Homo sapiens: one gene and its partner. The protein of the gene in region 1 purifies or fractionates together with the protein of each later gene. This does not show direct contact. Each region holds a gene or a part of one and is shown in the gene's direction. Other genes may lie near its edges.

What was found. The genes of interacting proteins can lie anywhere in the genome.
Region 2: the proteins of OAS1 (region 1) and PPM1B purify together in Homo sapiens (co-immunoprecipitation; one large-scale study listed by IntAct). This does not show direct contact.

The regions. Positions count from the first base shown.
Region 1 is NC_000012.12:112,909,899-112,913,551, forward strand, and holds part of OAS1 (2'-5'-oligoadenylate synthase 1), read left to right. Parts: intron 1-1,152; coding exon 1,153-1,337; coding exon of another isoform or gene 1,338-1,360; intron 1,361-3,653.
Region 2 is NC_000002.12:44,213,873-44,217,525, forward strand, and holds part of PPM1B (protein phosphatase 1B), read left to right. Parts: intron 1-3,653.

The DNA.
Region 1 (3,653 bases):
TTATCAAGTAATTAGGACTTAATTAAAGGAACTGTCACAGTTTCCTTTAGTCCTAGGGCAGCCATGAAAAAAAAAATGCTGACTCTCCAAAGACACCAGGGTATGAGAAAGTTTTGGATTCTCTCCTTTGTGCCATCTCCTGTGTTGGGGGCTGAAGTACAATGGTTGTAAAAGACAAGAGGGAGAAGGCTGGTCACAGTGGCTCACGCCTGTAATCTCAGCACTTTGGGAGGCCAAAGTGGGGGGATCACTTGAAGTCAGGAATTCAAGACCAGCCTGGCCAACATGGTGAAATCTCACATCTACTAAAAATACAAAAATTAGCTGGGCGTGGTGGTGTGTGCCTGTAATCACAGCTACTCGGGAGGCTGAGGCAGGAGAATTGCTTGAACCCAGGAGATGGAGGTTGCAATGAGCCAAGATCATGCCATTGCACTCCAGCCTGGGCAACAGAGTGAGACTCCATCTCGAAAAAAAGAAAAAAGAAAAGAATATAAGGAGTGATTAAAAAAGAAAAGAAAAGAAAACTAAGTAGGGTGAAACAATAGATAGCCATGGGGGTTAGGGAGCTTTTTTAGACAGGGTCGTGAGGGAGGGTCCCTGAGCCTGAGTGGCGAGAAGGAGTGAGCCTTGGGGAGATCTGGAGGTTCTGGGAAGAGGAATGGCAAGTGCAGAGGCCCTGAAGCAGCAATGACCATGGCACATTTGAGGAAGAGAGAAAAAGTCAGAGAAGTAGAAAGTGGGCAAAGGAAGCAAGACAGGAGGTGAGGTGGGAGAGGTTCCAGAGACCAGATCACACCAGACATCATTGGCCACCATAAGATCTTTGGGTTTTAAAATTCCAGATGTTATGGGATGCAGGAAGCAGCATGATCAGCAGCATTCTCTAGGTGCCAGGTTGAGAACAGGCTGTGGGGGAACCTGTAAAGAGGTTGCTGCCATAGTTCCGGCGAGTGACGGTGGTGGCTTGGATGGGGTGATGGCAGTGGAGAGGGCAGGAGGGAGGATCAGGAATGGACCTCAAGACTTCCCAGCCCTGGGTCTGCTGCACTTTTCAATCAAACCCCATGGCCAGGGAGATTGTCCCCTCAGAGTGACTGAAGGAAATTCAGAGAAGAGCTGACACCTAAGTTGTAGATTTTGCCCGAACAGGTCAGTTGACTGGCGGCTATAAACCTAACCCCCAAATCTATGTCAAGCTCATCGAGGAGTGCACCGACCTGCAGAAAGAGGGCGAGTTCTCCACCTGCTTCACAGAACTACAGAGAGACTTCCTGAAGCAGCGCCCCACCAAGCTCAAGAGCCTCATCCGCCTAGTCAAGCACTGGTACCAAAATGTATGGCCCTCCCACCAGGCCTGGTGGGTCCTGTCTCGACTGGGAGCAGAGGAGGGGTGGGGGGAGGAGAGAAAGAAGGGAGTGAAGGGAAGAGGAGGGGGAGTGGTGGAGGGAAATAGAGGGATGGAAAAAGGAGAGAAAGGAAAAAGAGGTGGAGAGAGGAGCCTGCAACAGAAGGGAGAATGAAAGGGAAGGAAGAGAGAAAGGAAGGGATTTTGGTGTTCTGTTCACTGCTGTATCCCCAGAACTTAAAACAGAGCCTGGTGCATAATAGGTGTAAATAACTGTTGAATAAATGAATCAATGCTACATACACACACGCACGCACACACACACAGAGAGAGAGTCAACCACACTCTTCAGAAGGTGGATAAGTTAAAACAAGAGTTTCAAACAAATATATGTTCAGATGCCCTTTCCTCCCACTTACTGGCTGGCTGGCCTTAAGTAAGCAACTTAACCTTTCTGTTCTTTCTGCTTTCTTATCTGCAACGAGTAGCATGCCATAGCTAGAGTAACACGGCATATAGTTGGTCCTGATAAATGTAGCATATTTTAGCCACCATAGGAGTACACATAATAAAAGCTAACATGTAGTATGTGCTTAGCTTATCTATGTTTTGTGGATGTGATACAATTTTCTGTTCACTTTTAAATGCCCTGCATCTTAGTCAATTTTAACAGTGATTCTGTAAGTTAGATAAGGTTAGGCATTATTATTAAATCCATTTTACACCAAGAGAAACTTGGGTCAAAAAGAGAAACTCCTGGGTCACATGGCTCATTCGGCCAATAAGTAGCAGAAGTAAAATTTGAATTTGGCTGGGCGCGGTAGCTCACACCAGTAATCCCAGCACTTTGGGAAGCCAAGGCAGGTAGATTGCTTGAGCCCAGGAGTTCAAGACTAGCCTGAGCAACATGGCAAAACCTCGTCTCTACAAAATAAACTAAAAATTTAGCCAGGTGTGATGGTGAGCACCTGTAGCCCCAGCTACTGGGTAGGCTGAGGTGGGAGGATCGCTTGAGCCTGGGAGGAGGAGGTTGCAGTAAGTCAGGATTGCACTACTGCCCTCCAGCCTGTGAGACAGAGCAAGATCTTCTCTCAAACAAACAAACAAACAAACAAACAAAAACTCGAATTTGGGTCTATTGACTTAAGAGTTTGCCTGATAATAATAGGCATTCAATGTATATTTCTTGAATGAACGAATGAATGAAAATAATCAGGAATAAACTTTCCAATTTAAAAGTAACACCTCTAGGTAAAAAAAAGACAATCATTTAGTTGCCAGACTTCTAAGTGTTTGCTGTTCTATGAATTGTAATCATGGAGCCTGAGCATTGTAGAATTTACAAAAGCAGTTCCTGACAAAAGCAGCACTGCCCCCAGGGACATATTGAAAATTAATGAGGGTGTTTTTGGTAACCATGGTGATGGGAGGACATGGGTGCTACTTATATTTAGTGGAAAGAAGACAAGAATGCTAGTTATTGTACAATGATCAAGAGAGTCCTGCACAGCCAAGAATTGTCTTTTTCTTTCTTTCTTGATGCTGTTCTCCTTTAAAACAAGACAAGATTAACAATAATTTAACTCCACTAACCACCATCATCACCACCTCCAACTTATATGCTACATTTCTTGTATATTTCAAGTCTGTTTATATTTTCAAGTGCCTCGAAGTATTATTGTTTTATAGCCAAATGTTTAGTTAATCTGCTCACAGATTTACCACTTTCTTCACTATTCATTCTGTCTTACACCTCTAACATTCCATCTGGGGTAATTTTCCTAAATGATCATGCATCCTTTGGGATTTCTTTTGATGATGGTCTATTGGTAGTAAACTCTCTCAGTTATTGTTTGTCTGAAAATGTCATGCTTTTGCCTTCATTGTTGAAGGGTGCTTTTGCTGGGTGGTCATTTCAGTATATTGAATATATCATTCCATCTTCCAGTGTCATCATTAAAAAGTCAGTTGCCAGTCTAACTGCAGCTCTTTTATAAGTAACCTGTCTTATTCTTCTGGCTGCATGTAAAAGTTTTCTCTTTGTCTTTGATTTTGTTTAGCTTCAATCTGCTGTGTCTTAATGATGGGTTCCTATTGTTTGTCCTGATTGGGATTCCGTTAAGATTCCTGAATCTGTGGGTAGATATCTTTAATCAGTTTTGAAACTTCTCAGCCATTCTTCTAAAATATTGATTCTCCTTCATTCTCTCCTCACCTTCTAGAATTCCAATTAAATGTATGTTAGACCCTGCTCTATCTTTCATATCTCTATACTCTCTTCTGTGTTTTTCATCCTTTTGTCTAT
Region 2 (3,653 bases), on another chromosome or scaffold:
TTGCAGATTGCTGACTATAGTTTATCAGAAGGTGGGAGGAATTCTCTTAGTTTCCTTCTTCCTCATTCATAAAGAAACTGGGTAGTTTTTATTTTAGGAAGAGCTCTCTAGTTTGGTCAGCTGGCTGTTATGTGAACTTATCCAACTTGCTTAACCCCTCAAGGCACCAGTTTCTTTATTGGAAACTAAAGATAAAAACACCAACCATAGAGTTTTTTGTTTTTTGAGACAGAGTCTCGCACTGTCACCCAGGCTGGAATGCAGTGGCGCGATCTCGGCTCACTGCAAGCTTAGCTGCCCGGGTTCACACCATTCTTCTGCCTCAGCCTCCGAAGTAGCTGGGACTACAGATGCCCGCCACCATGCCTGGCTAATTTTTTGTATTTTTAGTAGAGATGGGGTTTCACTGTATTAGCTCAATCTCGTGACCTCGTGATCTGCCCGCCTCGGCCTCCCAAAGTGCTGGGATTACAGGCGTGAGCCACTGCGCCCGACCCCATAGAGTTTTTTTTTTTCTTAAATAAATTGTTACAAAAAAAGCTTATTGATGACACTTGTTAAAGATGGTAAGGCAGATATTTTTTCGGGGGTGGGGGGGGCATGGCAGTAGATATAGGGACCACTATGATAGAATCTTGCAGTGGCAGAAAGAAATTAAACTCAACTTGGGGTCCCATAAAGATAAGTGGAATTTATAACTAAGGAGCTGAGTGCTTGAAGGGAGTGTCAGTGGATGGAAAATTATTACTAAGAGGAAGCATCAACATAAGGGGTTTCTGGCTAAACTGACTTGATAGCATGGCAGGCCAGGCTAAAATATCCAGAGTGGTCCTATATCAAGTGTGTGGGGGTTTTCAGTAAACTGACTGAGCAGGATTCTCATTCAGCCTGGTTTCTACAAGGACAGAGAGGGAGCCTAAAGTTCTCCTAGTCAGAAAGAACTCAAGAGTCTTGCTGAAGGTTTGGTCCAAGCAAAGAGTTTTTGTCAAAATAAATGAGAATTATGTTTGTTAAGCACCTATTATGGTGCCTAGCACGTAAGTCCTCAGCAAACTGTAACTTTATATGAACTCTTAACTTCTGTAATAGCCACATTTTAATTTCTTAAAGGTGTGGTCAATTCAGTTTAACATGAGTTAATAATTTAATATTAATTTTCTTCTGCATAGTTAGTAACTTTCTAAAGTATATATTATATAGGAGAGATAACAAATATGTAATATGATCTCTAGGGCCTGTAGCAAATAGTTATTATTAATCAGGAGACAAAATTGTTAGCTAGGCAGCCACTACAAATCAATTTAAGTTGGTACTTAAAATGTAACTTCACAGTAGCTTACACCTATAATTCTTGGGATGCCGAGGCAGAAGGATTGCTTGAGACTAGGAGTTCAAGACCAGCCTCGGCATCATAGAGCTACAAAAAAGTTTTAAAGATTAGCTGAGCATGGTGGTGCACACCTGTAGTTCCAGCTACTTGAAGACTGAAGCAGGAGGATCACTTGAGTCCAGGAGTTTGGTGTTACAGTGAGCTATGATGGCACCACTGCACTCCAGCCTGGGCCACAGAGTAAGAACATGTCTTTAAGAAAAAAAAAAAAGTAACTTTTTATTTGTAAAGCAGTGTTCTTCAGGAGCATTATGTTTCTTCTGGGGTTTTAAATCATGTAATATGACATTAAATTTTGTGGTAAATACATTCTGGTGTACTTGGTAAATCTGTGTGTATGCTTTTAATGATGACTGGTCAGGTGGGAAAGGAATAATATTAAAATAAACAGGGAATAGTAGTTCACCTGAATTGATGAATTATATATTTAATGATTGCTTTCTACATACAGGTTTACTCAGTGTTTATTGAACATGTGTCACTGAGGATATAGCAGAAAAAGAAATCTCATAGAATTTGTATTCTAGTAAAAACCTATTTTTTTTTAATAGAGAAATAAAATAGAGTAAGTAGAGAGCAACAAGGAATATTGGTTAGAAATGTCTCTGTGAGGAAGGATGTTTGAGCAGCCGTGCTTGGAGAGAGAATATCTGAGGGAAGAACATTCCAGGCAATGACAACAGCAAAGACTAGGAGGGAATGTTCTTAGTGAGTGCAGCTGGGTTAGAATAAGCCAGTAGAAAACTAGAGGAAAATTAAGAGGTTTGTAGGAGGCATATCATGTGAGGACTTTGGACTTTGACTTGTGGGAATTCATTGGAAGATTTTGAGTACAAGAGTGATTTGTTCTTTTTTCCAAAGGATCTCTCTTAGTTGCTGTATGGAGAAGAGATTGTATAAAAGGGACAAGAGAAGCCAAAATACCGATTAGAAATTATGCATTAATGCATGGTAGTGGTAAATTGGACTAGAGTAGAGGGGTGTAAAAATGTCTGGTGACATTTTTGGTGTCATAGCTGAGGGGGTGCCACTGGCATCTAGTGAATGGAGGCCAGGGATGCTGCTTAATATTCCACAGCACACAGGACAGCCCCCACAACAAAAAAATTGTCTGGTGTAAAATGTCGGTGTTGTTGATGTTGAGAAGCCTTATACTATAAGACACAGATTTAAGGTAGAAAACTTACAGTCCTGCTTTCATGAAGCTTGCAGTCTATGACCCAATAAACATCGTGTATGTGGGAGTATATAGCATTATGGTATACAGTACATGTCATGCATATGGGAGTGTATTGCAGTGTACCTACTCAGACTTAGGTCAGAGAAGGATTTGAGAATGTGACATATAAAATTGAAACCTCAAGGATGAAAATAGGCATTCATAGCTGGGCGTGGTGGCTCAGGCCTCTAATCCCAGCATTTTGAGAGGCTGAGGTGGGTGGATCACGAGGTCAGGAATTCAAGACCAGCCTGGCCAACATGGTGAAACCCCATCTCTACTAAAATACAAAAATTAGCTGGGTGTGGTGGCACATGCCTGTAATCCCAGCTACTTGGGAGGCTGAGGCAGGAGAATCGCTTGAACCAGGGAGTCAGAGGTTGCAGTGAGCTGAGATAGTGCCACTGCACTCCAGTGTCTCAAAAAAAAAAAAAGGGACATTCACCATACAGAGGGGTTGGATTAGAGTGAAAAGTGTTCCCAAACCAACGAAAAGAGTATGTGAAGATCTAGAAGTAGAAGTCTTTGAATGGATCCTTTGGAGATGAGGGAGGCGGGCAGAGTTGAAAGAGTAGTGGAAGTCAACGTAAGGGTCTTGTGAGGCATGGTAAACAGTTGTTTTGAAAGTAAGGCCTGGGCTGGGTGTGGTGGCTCATGCCTGTAATCCCAGCACTTTGGGAGGCCGAGGTGGGTGGATCACCTGAGGTTGGGAGTTTGAGATCAGCCTGACCAACATGGAGAAACCCCATCTCTACTAAAAATACAAAATTAGCCAGGCATGGTAGCACATGCCTGTAATCCCAGCTACTCGGGAGGCTGAGGCAGGAGAATTGCTTGAACCCAGGAGGCAGAGGTTGCAGTGAGCCAAGATCACGCCATTGCACTCCAGCCTGGGCAACAAGAGTGAAACTCCGTCTCAAAAAAAAAAAAAAAGCTGTAGAATGTAACTATTTCAGGTAAGTATCAACTTGTAAAAATGATTTTTAATTTCTCCCCTTTTTCTTATAATTCTTATCTAGCTAAACTTTTATTATCCTTTAGTAA